Regions from separate parts of the Homo sapiens genome. Here region 2 is linked to region 1. A link means that fine-mapping ties the variant in region 1 to the expression of a gene that starts in the linked region. Tissue or cell type: whole blood. Region 1 holds a variant in brackets; the other region holds the start of a gene. All regions are shown on one strand. Distances are from middle to middle.

Evidence for each region. PIP is the estimated chance that this variant, and not a neighbour inherited with it, causes the effect.
Region 2: MGLL starts here. The variant in region 1 is fine-mapped to the expression of MGLL in whole blood (INTERVAL, PIP above 0.99).

Annotation. Positions count from the first base shown.
Region 1 is chr3:127,951,120-127,959,384 of GRCh38, forward strand. All of the region lies in intron 4 of KBTBD12 (kelch repeat and BTB domain containing 12), which reads left to right. Among named protein-coding and RNA genes, the nearest start is that of KBTBD12, 40 kb to the left of the region's middle. The variant G/A (reference allele first, on the strand shown) is at 4,710.
Region 2 is chr3:127,818,212-127,826,211 of GRCh38, forward strand. It overlaps MGLL (monoglyceride lipase), which reads right to left and starts at 4,304. Exons shown (of 8, transcript NM_007283.7): 1 at 4,098-4,304; 2 at 3,483-3,627. The coding sequence starts at 4,107. RefSeq lists an enhancer at 1-335 and a silencer at 4,746-5,265.

The DNA.
Region 1 (8,265 bases):
TAACGTTTTAATGTCTTCATTCTCTAGTATTCATGAATGAATCTTAGTCTATTTTTTGATTAAATGTCAATTACTGCTAAGAGATAAGACCACACTCAGTATATGAAACCACGAAAGCTGAATTTATTGATTACTTAGTGTAGGAATGGTTATTTGGTCAGAGATATTCTCATTGAACAAAGCAAACTGATGATTTTATATAGGATTGTGGGCAGGAGTTGAGTTTGGTTTAATGTTGGTTACAAAGATGAGAGTGGATTGCTGTTCCTCAGAAGTGTGGATTATGTTTGTTCATTGCTGAGGCAGGAAGGGGTCAGGTCAGCCTTAGAAGAGGACTCAGTGGAGTGAGTCAGCCTCTGATTGGCTGCCTTCCACAGTGTGAGGCTGTCTCTGACTGGTTGATTCCAGAGTCATGGTCACTGAAGCAAGTTGTCATTGATTGATTAATCAGGATGAAAACCACTTCTGATGTTGACTTGTCATGGCTCGGGAACAATTAGTCTTTTCTCAGGAGCATGGGACTTTTCTGTATCCCACCCCTCCCTTTCTCATCTTCAAGCAGCAAGACAGACCATCAGGGATTGTCCCAATATTCATCACCATTGTTAATTTTGTCTTTAAATTATTCGTTGAAACATTTCTTAGGACAGTGGCTCTGTAGATTTAAGACTCTGGATAAACACATCAGACTGTGCAACAAAGTATAACAAAGGTATTGCAAGAAGGGATTAGAGGGCAGTATAAAGGCATGATCTAGATTTTCCAAGGTCTGACATACTCTTAAGTAGATAAGCTACCTTGACTGTTTGAGTTCTCAGTAGTATAAACACTGTCTTCCTGGCTTTGTTGGAAAATGAAAGATTCTATATAGTTACATTTTCCCAAGAATTCATGCCAGTACCTTTAAGTGGCTAAATCTGATTACATTTTTAACAAGGAAAAAAGTATCCCAAGTTATCACACTCTTCTTTGCCTTGTGAAAGAGTTCTTTGAAGGAAAATAATATTTTTTTGAAGAAGTACTAAATTCTAGGTGATTTCATATATTGTCTCAATTCTCACAATATCCTACAAAAGTAAATTCTTTATTTTTATTACACAAATATTGTGACTAAATCCAGGGTTCAAACACGGATCTGTCCAATTTTAAAGTTAAAATAACTTTTTAAAATATCTCAGTCATTAAGAGCATCAAAAATTGTGCTTCTCTATATGTGAGTGATGTCCATTGGCCATTGAGTAATGTACTACTGTATTTGCTCCCTAAACTAGAAGGCCACAAATTACAGGGTTTCATGGGTTTTTTTCCTCTCCTTCCCACTGCTGTTGGTTACCATTTCTTTTCTTGTTGCTCTCTCCCTGTTATGTTACCAGATTGTACATACAAGATTATGCATCAATCATACATATAAATAGATTTTACATACAAGACTATATATGCAGGCAATTGTACATATGTTTAGATTACACATACAGTTAGGCCATTAGACCTTGTGTCATTAACAATGTCTCCAGTTTTTTCAGAATAAAATTCAAGGTCTTTTATCACAGCACCAATACTCAGACACTTGTTTTACATTGCTCAGGGTTTTCACTTGTGCTCTGGGCACTAGCAATCGTCTGACTTCCTGTTAAATGAGGAGTTACTGTAACAGGCAGCATCTAACCACCACAGGGAAAGATTTAGGCAAGCAGGATAATCGGAATCATTTGGTTAATGGCCCTTGCCTTTACCTTATTACATTTTTTATAAATTTTCTGAGTAAATCTCATGTGTACAAAGGTTTCCCAGGTGTATTCTTTAACAGAAATAAGCCACAGAAAGGAAAGGTCCTTCTGCAGACCAATCTTATCTCTGCAACTTAATAGCACCATGTGATTTTGAGCAAGTTGCTGAATTTTGCTAAATCTGTTTTCTTTATTCATAAAATAAGGATGATAATAATACATTATTAACTCATGCAGTTGTTGCAAAGCTTAAGAGAGTATTATGCCAAATGCTGAACACTGTGCTTGGCATATGAGAAGTGCTCAATAGATGAGAGTTATAACAATCATTATTGCTTATAGTAAGTGGCAAAGAGTCCACTGTGCTTTAGTGTCCTAATAATGTTCAGCCCGTCATCTTATTGTTAATGCCCTGCCAGGCCCAAATGAGGAGGCATACTGAGATGAGGTCATTCTGTCCTCATGCGTTGGGAGTCAAAGGACTGAGTCTTTCTACTTTCTTCATTTCCTCCTATTGTAAACATGCGCTAATGACATACTTACTGCACATTCACACAGCCTGCTTTTCTGTATGGAGCCAGGTACACATTTTCATGTAAGGAACTCTTTGAAAATATTGTCCAGAATGTACTCTTCTAATAGGAATTAAAGATGAAAACATTGTATTACCGGACATTGTGGCTAGCACTGACCCTGGAGGTTTGCTTTGAGTTGTAAAGATTTTAGAATATGGACTTCAGTTAAAACCTATGCTGAATTTTTCTCGTGTAAATGTTTGTCTTTAAAAAGTGTGTTGTCACAGATACCATGAATAATTTGAATTTAGATGAAAACAGCTTCTGGAATTATGGCAAACTAGCCAAGGGGCATATTAGTCATATACTGGATAGTTTTTCCTGGAAATCTATAAATTGCCTTCTTAACATAAAAATAAAGGAATAGATATGGCCAGATTGCTCAAGTGACTCCATTGCTCATGTGGTTACATGTGCATTTTGTCAGCTTTGCCACACTGTAATTGGCTCTTCTGTTGGATAACTTCCTAGAAAGCCTAAAATAATTTAGTCTATATAAGTCTTATGAGTCAATGATACCCTAAGTGGAAACACAGGTATTTAAAACCAGCCAGCTTTCCTTTTGACTTTTTTTTCCTGAGGCCCTTCTCAGGAACGTAACTATTTTTGTTAGGAAGTGCAGAAAGGAGTGGTCTGTTGTTTAATGACAGAACCACTGACATGCAGGAGGAGACCAAAGGGAAGGTGCCTTAGTTCTAAGGAAAAATCTTTTGTCATTTGTACAGTGAAAGCTCATTATAAGAGCTAGTTAAGCTTCTTTAATCTAAAATACATCCTAATTGCCTAAAAAGGTAGTCCAGAAATTTTAGGTTAATATATCTTATTGCTGTAGAAAATATTAATGCCTTGTTTTCAAGGTTTTAAATCCATTTTATGAATAATAAAGTAGAAAATGAATCAAATACAGACTCCTATTAGTAAAATTTGGGGGAAGGTAGAACATTCTGGGTTCAACCTCACTGAAATCTCATTATGAGTCCTTGGTGAATGCTTCTGTTATAAAATACTGATTTAAATATGGTACCAGGGGCTGTCTCTTAGAAAAGAAGTTTGCATGTAAGATAAACTGGAAAGCATTTTAGATCTCATACTATTAGTTATGCTCTTGAATAAATTATGCTTCCTTCTGAAATGAAAATGTGTATTCATGAATATGCTTTGGATTTCCATCAAGTGTTCTTAAAATGTCAAATTGCGTTCAAAAGTTGCTTCAGCTTGATGGGTCAGGCAAAATCAAATATAGAAAGTGAGGCCAGAATCTATTTATGGAGGCAGTAGACCTTTCACACGTGGCCCCAGCCTGCCCCTGCAGCCTCAGCTCCTCCTGCCACTCCTCCACCCCACAAAGCCTAGCGCCAGCCACAGGGACTGGGGGTCACTTCCTGAACATGCTTTCCTCCTGTGCCTTTGTTTACCCTGTTCCCTTTGCGTGTAGGGCCTAACTCAACATCCTCAAAATCTGGCAAAAATCCCATCTCCTTGTAGTGGTTTATGTAATCCTTTGGTCAGAACGAAGAGCATGCTGCTTTGCCAGTCGCTGCCCTTGTCACACTATACTCAGACTGTCTAAGGCACAAGACGTTGTTTTACTCATCTCTGTGTGTCCTCTGAAAGCCAGCCCAGGGCCTGGCTTTACGTTATAGATGCTCAGTAAGTATTTGTTTACTGAATTGCATTTTCACATCTCTGTAACCTGTCCTATTCTTCTATCATGTAAAATGCCACAGAAATTATCAGAGTTTTACAGGTCTTATGGAGAATGTTTTGAAATAGGGACTTTTCATTTCCCTGTCTAGGGAGACAGTTAATGTTGAGTTTTCCCACATAGCTAATGTCCCAAACTATCAATGTTTTCTCCAGGAAACCATTTTGTGCCTCATTGGTTTACTGAAAACATAACAGCACTGTCCAAGTCTGACTCTCAGCTTGAATGCCATTAAAGAGTAATGAAGGGAAAAGTTACATAAAAGGTTCAAATTATTACAGTAACTGCATTTCAAAGATAATTTTAATGGTGAGTTAGTTTGTGAAATGAGAAGACCAAGCTTTATTGTGGTAAGATTTTACCCTTTTCTTTTGATAAAATTCTAAGCAATTTTTGAAAAGTGTAAGTCTCAAATTACCTAGGTTGCCTACTAAAACGGCAGATTCCTGGCCCTCACTATTGGCAGATTCAGAGTCAGTGAGTCTAAAATGAAACCTAGGAATCTGAATTGTAGGAAATATAGAGGCAATTCTGGCGTGAAAAAAATCACAGGATTGCACTTCGAAAAACACAGATGTTCTGAGGAAAGTGGAAAGGTAATATCATATTAATGGACATATTATATGCTCAAAATATTTGCTAAGCATATGTTACATAAGCCAGGCCCTGGGCTGGCTTTTAGAAGAGATACAGATGAATAAG[G/A]CAATATCTCTTCCTCTAAACAGCATCATTGTGTACTTGAATATTCTAGGAAGTTGGATAAAGTTACTTGCTCAAAGTGTCCTGGCACTGATAAGCCAGAATAGGCTGTCAGTTATGTTCTGCTCTAATTGCAAGAGTGTTCTGGGCTTAGATATACATTTCATACATTCATGATGAACAAGGAAAGAAATGCTTTACCATGGCCAAAGAAGTCAGACAAGATATTCCTCATGCCTCCTTGTTCTGAAAAAAGACTTGGATTTAGAGATTCAGTAGCTCTGAGCTGGAGTGAATGGCTCATTATGTTTTTGCTATAAGTATCTATAAAATATATTTCCAGTTAATCATATGAGGGGTTTTAAACCTTTATTATCTGGCACCCTCAACAAATAACTCAGAAATAAGTACTCTAAAAGACCAAAGTTTACCTGTGGCTCCCAAATTGCAACTTAGCTATAGTAATTTTTATCATTGATATCCCACAAGTTCACAGGGAGTTAGCATTCTATATATTATTGTGACAGTGAGTTAAAAATTACACTTTATTCCATCAGTGTGTAATTATAATCCTGTATTATATATGTTTTCATATTTGTCCTTTATTTCCCAGCAGACTCTGAGTGTCTTATGGACAAAAAAAAAAAAAAATCCTCAAACTTGTTATTCTATGACACCCAGTACAAACATGAGTGGGTATCCAAAATATACTTTTAGATTGCTTAAATTAACTACAAGTTTAAAATGTGTTTGATTCTGAAATTAGAATGTTTAGAAGCTTCTACAGTGTGAAAGCCCCACAGGACAGTACTCATGTTACTGCGCGTGGATGAGAAATATCCTAGGAGAATGCTGTCTCAGGCTCTGATCTACTAGTGTGTGTCTGCAGGAAAGCTTAATGTTACAGAGGCAAAGAGTTGTACAACTATACAATCTGTGCTTTGCTTTTATGAAAAAGAGGTAAATTGTTAAAGAAAAAGAAAACATGCCAATAACAAGGATTTAAGAAAGCAAATCTTAGGCATGTCTTTGTGCAGCTTAATGTGTAGAACTGTCTATATCCATGGCATATTATAAACAGCAGATCATTTTGTTACTCCTGAATCCTTAAGAAAATGTTCCACTATATTTGGTATCTTCAGTTCACTAAGGCAGAGAAGAACGTAATACATATTTTAAAACAGTATAAAGAGTTGAAATGGAAAATTTTTGTGCTTTAAAGAGGAAAATATCGATTACCAAAAAACTGTCATTTGGAGTAATATGTACTATCTTTCTTCCTTTATCCTAACTCATACATGTGATCAATATTTTTATCACTCCCTTCCTCTGCCATTTCTTGGGTAAATATGGAAATGAGCACAAACTATCATTTTCTGTAAATCATTTCACTTAGACACAAGATAAATATGCCAAAGACTTATTATAATATTTTTTCTTTAATATTTATTTCACAAATACTGTCAAGCATCCTTTAGAAGATATTGTGCTTAGCACCTCAGGGAAGATAAAGATGTAGACCTTGCCTTCAAGGACTTATAAAATTTTGTGTCTCTTTCATTTCTAAGCTGTGGAATAGGTTTGACTAATAGCTCTTTGCAGGACCACTTCATAGAAGTACTAGTATTAGGCAGGCCAATCTGGGGGAAAAGATGAGCCCAACAACAGACAGCAGTCATTTTTCTCAGGATCTGAGATTAGATTCCTATATTCTTAAGAAGATGACTTTTATAATCAGCCAACTTTTAGCTCTTTGGATTTAGGACTTGCCATATTCTGAAAAGCCAGTTATCACTTTCTGTTTTGACCGCTCCCCCAACCGCCACCAAAAAAAAAAGTATAAGAAAAAAAGATACCTAGGACATGAGTAAGGAGCTGACCCACCCATGCATTCTGTTCAGTGTTTGTGTCTTCACTGTCCGTACCCAGTGTAGAAAGTGTTGGGGATACAGATGTGATTAGACATCTGCCCTCAAGGGACTTACAGTCTCATCTAACAAGGCAACATATAGGGAGATAAATTAGAGCAATGTATTTTCATAGGAACCTTGATTTCTGTTCAGGACAGTGGAAGCCTAAAAAGAGGGAATGGCCAATTCTGTGTAGAGACATGAAAGGCTTTGTGAGAGGTTGAAGGTGGAGCTGAGCCTTGAAAGAGGAGTAGGGGTTTGCCAAGTTGAGGAGGAGAAGAGGCCATTCTAGGCGGAGAGATCAGCCCAAGCCTAGGCCTAGAGACAAACAGCCTCCCTTATTTGGAGAATGGTTGAGTGTTCTGGTGCCTCAGGGGCAGGGGCGGTGCAGGAGGGAGAAGGGCAGACCAGGCATGTGAGGAGTTAGGAGCAGCTGGGTCACCAAGACTTGGTGTCTGTAGGGGAGGGGATGGGTATGGGAGGCACTGAGGAGGTACAGTCAGCAGAGTCGGTGACTGCTGAGAGGAGGGCTGTGGTGACATTCATCTGCAGCTGGCACCTCTAGCCTGCTGTGGCATCTATGGGCCATCCCCTAAGCTCACTCCCACCCACCACGTCCAGGCTCTCCACTCTGTGCTCTCCCCTTACTGGCCCAGGCTTTAGACCTGCTGGGACCCCTGCAGGACAGACTGGTGGTAAGATGGAGAAGAGACAAGGAAAAGATGGGCCCAGGGTTTGAAAGGCCCAGACTCGACTGAAAATCCACTAAGACCCAGTGCTGGGTTGACACAAAAGCCCGGGTATCACTCAGGATCAGATGGGACAGCATTGTGTAATTGCAGCTTATTTGGCACTCAGGGCCCAGCTCCAGAACGTTCTATTAAACCAGCTATATGTCCACTCGGAAGTTATCAGATAATTCCAACACTTGATTTTTCCCTCCAAAATGAAGCAAAATCAAGCTGTAACAAATGGAACTTGGTCTTCCCCTTGAAGCTCTTTTATTTGATTTTCATAGTCATCTGTGTGGGGTAGCAAACAAAAAGCAGACAGATGATTGTGTTTTCCTGGCCTGGCAAGAAAAAGCTGGTCAAGGGCTATGAAGGCCAGCAGATAGAGAGAATGGAGAATGGCCACAGTACATGGGGGCCCAGCAGCCCTGTTCTGTGAGCCCAGGCACCCTATTGATGAGCACTGCACAGTATCAACCAGAATCCGGTAGAAGGCAGGTAAGCAGCTGTCAGCCTTGTACTGAAGGGCTTCATTCTGAAAATACCCAAGAGCCTCCTGTGTTAGACTTTAGAAAGTGGCAAGAAGCTAGGTTCATGTTTTCTAGGGTTTTAGGCACCAAAGCTAGAATTCTGATACGAGGTTGGAAAAAAATCAGAGAGCTGACAACTTGTGTGAGAATGAAACAAATCATCACAAGCATTATATTAGCAGTGAATAGATCATGTCTGACATGTGAGTCAGAAAGTAGCCCATCCACTCAGATATATGGGCCAGTTTAACTCCTAGAAGCCTATGCATTGCAAAATCCTTTTCTATTGTTAGGTCCACCAACAGCTCCTACCTCTCTCAAACATTTATGACCAAATGAGTTACTCTAAGTCATGTCAGGGAGCTTTTCCCTCTGCCTGAAGCCTGAG
Region 2 (8,000 bases), 130 kb before region 1:
CTCAGCCTCCCGATGTGTTGGGATTATAGGCGTGAGCCACTGCACCCGGCCAATATTTTTAAGTTCCAGCATGTTGAATTGGATAAGGCAGCCAGTCAGGCAAGGGCATAAATTCTGTTTTTTGTTATTGTTGTTGTTGTTTTCAGAAGGGATACCTATCTCTAATCTTTTTTTTTTTTTAAGAGACAGAATTTCAACACGTTGCCCAGGCTGGTCTCAAACTCCTGGTCTCAAGGAATTTCCCGCCTCTGTCTTCTGAGTTTCTGGGGCTACAGATGTGTACCACGGAACCCAGCTGATTTCCCACCTTTGATATATTATGAGCAAACGATTAGGGAGAATTAATTATTCTCTTCCTCTTTACCCTAGGAAATGATGTTTACCCTAACCCAAAATGTAAGAATTTATCAGGAAAACACTACCTATAAAGAAGAAATCTGTCCTGCTTGGTGGTGTAAGGAGAACAATTGGATTTGGTCCATGTCAGAAGATTGCGGACCAAATCCCACTACTGCCAGCAGGGTCATTTGGAGAAAGATACTTTGTAACATTGGACCTCTGTTTCCTCATCTGTAAAATGGGAATAGTAAGAATAATAATACTTGTCTCACAGATTGATGTGAAGGTAAAATGAGGTCATGTGTGCACAGAATCTAGTCCAGACCCTAGAACATACCTGGCACTCAATTAATATGAGATAATTGTGCCATGCCTTAAGTATAAGATTTGTTATTACCGTAAACACTACAGCATGAATTTGCCTTGGTACTGCCAAATGGAGGTTTAAGTTCTGATTCCTGATGATGAAATACGGAGACTCTGGCCTGCTACGTTAAAAACAGCACTGATGGTAAAGGCTAACCCAAGACATGCTTTCTCTTTCTCAGGGTCCAGTCCGAGGAGGCTGGTGTTTATACGACAGAATTTGCTTGCATAAAGCGGGTTAAGCCAGGTTCCCAGTGCAGCGGCTGACACCTGTGGCTTAGTGTTGCTCCGAGCCACCTGCAGAGCCAGTCTTGGAACCCAGCAGGTCCTCTGGGGGCAATATGTCTCTGTAGGTGCTCACGGCAGGCTCCAGGAGCTGGAGGTAACTGGTTGGCCAGAAAATCTACCCAAACCAGTACTGACTAACCGAGGCTGGCACAGATCCTTCTGCATAATAAGATATCCACAGGCCCCCGGGGTGGCTTCTGAGGTCCCTAGGGTCTCTATGAGAAAGATAGCAGAGGCGGGGCTGGAGATGAGGTGCTCTTAACCCAGGTTTTGCCCACAGTTGGTACAGTAGTGGGGGAGGGTTCAGTCTCCTCTTTTTTTGCCCCTTGCTTTTCCTCCCTTCTTTCTTCCTAACTGGGAGGAGACAGGATTGCACAAAGCGAGGCCCTAGTTTTGCTGAAGAGGGGTAAAAAGCCTGGGGGGAAAGATTGAAGCCCTGGTGACTTGAGGTCCCCTCCCTCTTCCTAAAAGCAGAGTGAATGATTCTGTGCAGGCAATAATAATAATACTTATTATAATGATGCTGCGGGGGTCTCCCAGATCATGCAAGAGGGCAGGCAGGCTGAGCAGCTGGTCTCGGTTATGAAGATACAGAGGTGTTTCATGCTGGCTGGCACAAACCTCTGCCCTGAGCCCCCACCCTAGGACCCCCAAGACTGCCCCAAGATCCAGCAAGCACAGGGTTAACATGAGTCATGGCAAGGGGCCTCCAGGACCTCTGCATCATCTCCAGGGGCTGGAGGCAGGGCAGGACAGGTAGGTAGGACCTTGGCCAGCCCCTTCCTCTTTGGTAAACTGAGGATAACACTATGGAAAGTGTTCATACATGCTCATGGTTCTGTTGCTCTTTCTATTTCAGTGCTCCTGCCCTCAATATTTTTTTCCCTTAACCTTTTCTAGACCCATAGGTTTCTTCCAAATTCTGGGGCCGAACTGCCTCAACCATCCACCTCTGTTCTTAAGCCCATCAGCACCCACCACAAGGCGGACGCTGACATCCAAGAGGCAGCTCAGTTTAAATTAAGAAGTTGAGTTATCATCTCTAACTAGAGCAAAAGCAACGGAGCAGAGAGGGCTCCCTGCAATGCAACTTCAGCACAGAGATTGTGAAAACCACCCGCAGGCGAAGGGAGGGCAGGGCAGCCAACTTGACCGTTTCTAACCCACTCACCCACCACCCTCCCCCTGTGCCAGGACTGCAGAACCTCTTTATTTTTGTTGACTTCGAACTAGGACAACCTCACTACTTAACCAACAAAGCCCCCCAAGTCTGAGACTCAGACATTAAAAACTTCTATTTTCAATTATTTGTCTTCTTTCTGTATATTGATCAAATTACCACAAACCACTAATCTGTTAGAAATTAATCCAAGATTGAGCAATTCTACAGCCAGTTAAGTCAGAGTGGAGAATTAATGATTAATTAGCATCATAATGCTCAACAACCCCCCCACTTCCTCTAATGCGTATGCACGTACAGACACATTCTTTAAGAAATGTATTACCAGAACTGGTAGGAACTCTTCTCAGCACGTTACCCACTTGAAAACACTAGAGAGAAACCATAGCCAGTCTGTGTAGCTGCCCTGAAGCTATGACTCTATGCCGGGTTTTAAAAGTCCATATCTCTGTGTTTTTAACGTGCAGCTCCCTGGATCATAGATACCTTGATGAAGACAGAGAAGAAATTTTACACCTGTGTGAGGGTTGGGTGATTACTGGAGCACAAAGAGAGACATAATCCAACCACACAATGATCCCTAGGAGACAAGAGGCCTACAAAACAGGTAAAATGTCCCTGGAACAGGAAATGTTCTTGTCACCAGGCCAATTGGTTACCACAAATAAATTCTTTTTCCAAATAACACAAACAAGCAGGGTTTTCCTGCTTCATCCAAGAGGAGGGAGCAGCAGCAGGAGACCAGCTGTCTTGTGTATAGTCCCAATGTTTGCTTCTAATAGCAAGACAAATCCTTGATGGAAAATGTACAAAGTAATTGAGCTGGCAAGGAATCAGAAGGAAATACCCAGGCCCCTTTCTTCCTGGTGACACATGTATGCCATCTTCAGAAGCTCAGAAACAAGCAGGAAAAGTGAGCAAAGGTGAAGATATATGTATTACTTCGGGTTTCTCATCCATCTAGGGGATTTTCCTTAATTGTCGGGTTTGATTTTAAATGAATGCCTGTACAACCGGAAATCAACTCCAGTACAAAAAATAAAGTCATGTGGAATTTTTGAAAATTGCCATACGGTAGGATCCATATCTGAGTTGTTATAATGAAAAAAGAATTCCTGCTTCTTAAATTTAAAAATTATAAAGTATACATTTTAGCTTTGTTAACATTGCTCAGCCTAACATTAAAACGGCAGGGGAAGTAGGTCATAGAGAAAGCGGCCCCGCCCCAGATGGCACATGATAACGACCAGAGGAGAAGCAGGGGCCATGCTCCCCTGTCACCTGGGGTGACTTTCTGGGGAAGACTTACTTGGGTGTGCCTGTGGGTTTCCAGTACCTGCAGAAGAGGTACTGTCCGTCTGCATTGACCAGGTGAGGGAGGTCCTGGTAGGGAATGCTCTGCGGGGTCCGCCTGGGGGAACTTTCCTCTGGCATGCTGGAAGGGTCTTCAGGTCCTAGAAGGAAAAGTGACATATTCCAAAGTCAGAAATATCTCAAGAACATGTATGGATAGGAGAGAAAAGTCTAGTTCAGAGTCAGTAACATTTTTTTAAAAGCAGTTTAAAAAACCCCTCTGTTTCAAAGGTTTAAAACATACATACATTTCTTGCAAACCTCTCCAAGACTGAAAAATCCCATTTGTTCTTAAGAAAATGCTCACTTTATTTTTTAAGTGCCTCATTACAGTTTTTCCCCCTTCCCATCTGTGTTTATTTTAAATCATTTCAGGAAACTTCATCTTAAAGACTATTTTAGCTGTAATCAAGTGGAAATTATAGTCAGCTCTATGGGTACAAAGACCCAGCTGCAAGAAGACCCATCTATCTTAAAATCTCCAAGGAACAGTTTCAAGTGGGCACAATAATGAGGTGGATGATACTCAGATTATTCCTCCCATCTGAAATTCCAAGGATACATGACAAACCTGTTTCCATTATGTGCTGGCGTTTGCATTCCACAACCACGACAGCCTGGAGAATCAGAACCAGGCAAATCGGGCTGTTCCCTCATCTGGGCGGCCCCAAGGCAGCAGGAAGGCAGCTCCGAGCCCTCTTCCCGCACCCAGACCCTGCCTTTCGGGCTGGGGCGCTCAGCCGGGAGCCTGCTTCCAGCTCCCACCGGCAGGCTCTCCGGGGCTCCCCTCCCTCCCCAGGGCGGGGAGCGGCGCTGCGATTCTCCACTACTAGTTCATGTCATCACTTTTCCTAAACAAATCGCTAGAGGGGCTCGGAGAAGGGAGGGGCCCGGGAAACTGGGAAACTAGCTCCGCGCACACCGAGGCACCTCGCAGACGCACAAATGCGGGTGCCCAAGGCAAAGTCGCCCCCAAGGCTTCTCACAAACTTTGCTTCCTGTGCGTCTCCGACAGCACAGGACACGTAGCCCCGAAGCTGTCATCGGAAATGCCGCTGGGAAAACCGGGTGGGCTTCGCCGGGTGTCTGCACCGGGGAAGGTGGGGACTAGAAAGATGGAGTTGATGGGGACAAGTTGGTTTGGGGGCTGGTGCGAAGGAGCAGGGAGGGCGCGCGCGCGCGCACACGCGCGCACACTCGGACACGCGCGCACACACACCGTGCACACACACACACGCACACATGGGTAGCGGGAGCCCACGCCGGGCGTGTCCGGGACCCCAGTGCTGCTCCCCACCCCTGACGGCGGCACTGGCGGGCTGGGGCAGGGGCCGGGAGGCAGTTACCGGGGCCACGAGCGCCGCTGTCGCGTTCCCCGAGCGCAGCGGATCCTCGTTTGCGGCGGGCCAGGGCCGGGACGAGCTGCGCGCGACCGGCTTCGCGGCGACAGGGTGCGGCGTCTGCGCCGCCACTTTATCCCTGGGCCGGCTCGGCGGCGGGGGCGGCCCGAGGTGGGTGGGGACGCGCGGGACCCGGCGGGCGGCGGGCGGCGCGGGGAGGCGGCGCCCGGGGCCCACGTGTGCCCGGCCCGCGGGGAGGAGCGGGGGCGCCGCCCGCCGACCCAGCCACGCACTCCTCTCCTCCGCGCCTCGTGGACAGCCGCGCCCCGGGGTGGCCGCCCGAGGACTGTCAGGGAGGCCTGAACTGAGCTGGGTTCATGGGAGCCTCAGCGCGGGAGGACACACCACACCCACGGGCACACGCGCGCACACAGACCCACAGGCACCACACGTACACAGACAACTCGCGCAGGGCCGCACACTCACCACACGTGTACACATGTGCACTCCCAAAGTCACTACACTGCACGCAGGGACATACAGACACACATCCCAGAGATACCACATGCATACAGACACACACAGACCACACATGCATGCACACACACAAGCCGAGACATAGGCACAGACAACCCACAGAGACACAGAGGTGCACAGACATATGCAGACTATACACCTGGCCCCCACATAGACACAGACACACTCACATCATACACACACAGTCGCACACAGACACACTCACACTTCATTGCAGTCAGACACATACAATGCTGGAGGGGCAATTAACCGGTCGTGGTGGCATGCGCCTGTAGTCCCAGCTACTCAGGAGAATCGCTTGAACCCGGGAGGCAGAGGTTGCAGTGAGCCGATACCACACCATTGCACTTCAGCCTGGGTGACAGAGTGAGACTCCATCTCGGGGAAAAAAAAATGCTGGAGGGGGTCCACTTGACTCTAGGGTAGTGTAAAAGCAGATGGTGCATGGCTACAAATGCCTTGTCCCTTCCTGGCAATCCCCAGCAACTCTCCCGTTCCCAGCGGCTGTGACCCCCAGATAAAACCTCTGGTGCATCTACACAGGCCAGGGCACAGTCTGAGCTCTGTCCAGTATAACTAGCAACGTGGCCGTGGAGGGTAAGGCCACTGGACTGAGACTCCACACCACCTGGGTTGAACATTAGCTCCTCCGCTTGCTCTTTGAGCCTCAGTCTACCTACCTTCAACCTGTGAGTGATATACCTATGCCCCAGTGGAGTGTCCCTGTCTCACACTGACCTCAAGAGGCCTTCCTGTCTTTCTCCGCAAAAAATTCTACACCATAGCAGCGTTGAGGACTGTGTCTCAGCGTCACACTGTGTGTGTCCAAGGAGGCCCAAGTTGCTACAGAGCCTGTGGTCTAACTTGAGAAATAAAACAACAGCCTTTGAGCAGTGGCTTGAGTTGTAGGCACTGCTGAGCGTGACTTACCCACTGTCTGGCCTCCAGCAGGCCACGAGGCCTGGAGCAGAGGAGTGGCTAAGTGACTTCTGGTCGGGGCAGCTCTACAGAATCCATGCAAGAGAGGTTTAGGGGCGGCAGTCTCAGGGGCAGGAAGCTTGGGGGCTTCACTCAAAGCTGGACATGCTAAGTGCACCGGATTTCCGTTGGTTATAATTCATGGAAAGGAAGGGTGCTCGGGGGTCTGATGGACGCTTTTATCAAGGCATTATTTCAAATGTTCCTGGCTCTAACATTTTATGATTTAAAATACACAGCTTGAAAATTTGGAGGAGAGGCCGGGCTCAGTGGCTCACGCCTGTAATCCCAGTCCTTTGGGAGGCCAGGCAGGTGGATCATCTGAGGTCAGGAGCTGGAGACCAGCCTGACCAACATGGTGAAACCCCATCTCTACTAAAAATACAAAAATTAGCTGGGCATGGTAGCGGGCACCTGTAATCCCAGCTACTCGGGAGGCTGAGGCAGGAGAATCGCTTGAACCCGGGAGACAGAGGTTGCAGTGATTGCACTCCAGCCTGAGCGACAGAGCAAGGCTCTGTCTCAAAAAAAAAAAAAAAAAAAAAAAGCTTTGAGGAGAGACTTCACTGAAGTTGTCAGAGGGATCTCAGTAGAAGTGACATTTGCAAACTTGAAGAGATCCCCCAAACTTGGTTATGGACAGAACTGAGACTGTGGTGTGTGGCCAGCCAACTGGGAATTTGGGAGTTAAGAGACAGATCGTATTGTTCTGTATCTGGCTTTTTCTTTTAATTAAACTTATTCTGAGATAATTGTAGATTCGCATGCAGTTGTAACAAATAATAAAGAGAGATGCTATGTGCCCTTTACTCAGTTTCCTGCAATGGCAACTTCTCACAAACCACAGTAAATATCACAACAGGATACTGACACTGATAGAATATCTGTAGTCAAGCTACAGAACGTCTCTACCCCACAAAGTGGTATGCTTTTATAGCCACATCCACTTCCCTCTCATCCTCACTCCCCTAGAACCCCTGGCAACTGCTAATTTGTTCTCCATTTCTAAAATTTTGTCATTTCAAGGATATTTTATGAATAGAATCATAAAGTACATAACCTCTAGGATTCACCTTTTCATTCAGCATAATTCCAGGTGGGTTGGGTGTAGCAGTCCACAGTATGGAAGTACCACAGTGTGTCTAACAGGTCATCTGCTGAAGGATATCTGCGTTGTTTCCAGTGTTTGTTGATTAAGAATAAAGCTGCTGTAAACCTCCGTGTACATGTTTTTGTGTGAACCTAAGTCTTCATTCTCTGAGATGAGGGCCCAGGAGTGCAATTGCTGAGCTGTAGGGAAATTGCAAGTTTTTAAAGAGAATGCCAAAATGTTTTCCAGAGTGACTGTAGCATTTTACATTCCTACCAGCAGTGTAGGAGAGAACCAGTCTCTCAGCATTCATGTCAGCATGTAGTGTTGTCACCATTTTAAAAATTTTAGTCTTTCTGTTAAGTGTGTAGTGATGATATTTCACTGTGGTTTTTAATTTGCTTTTGCCTAATGGCTAATGTTGTTTCATGTGCGTATTTGCCATCTATATATCCCATTCAGTAAAATGTCTTTTCTTGTCTTTCGGCTATTTTCTTGCCCCCCACCCCCCTTTTTTTTTTTTTTTTTT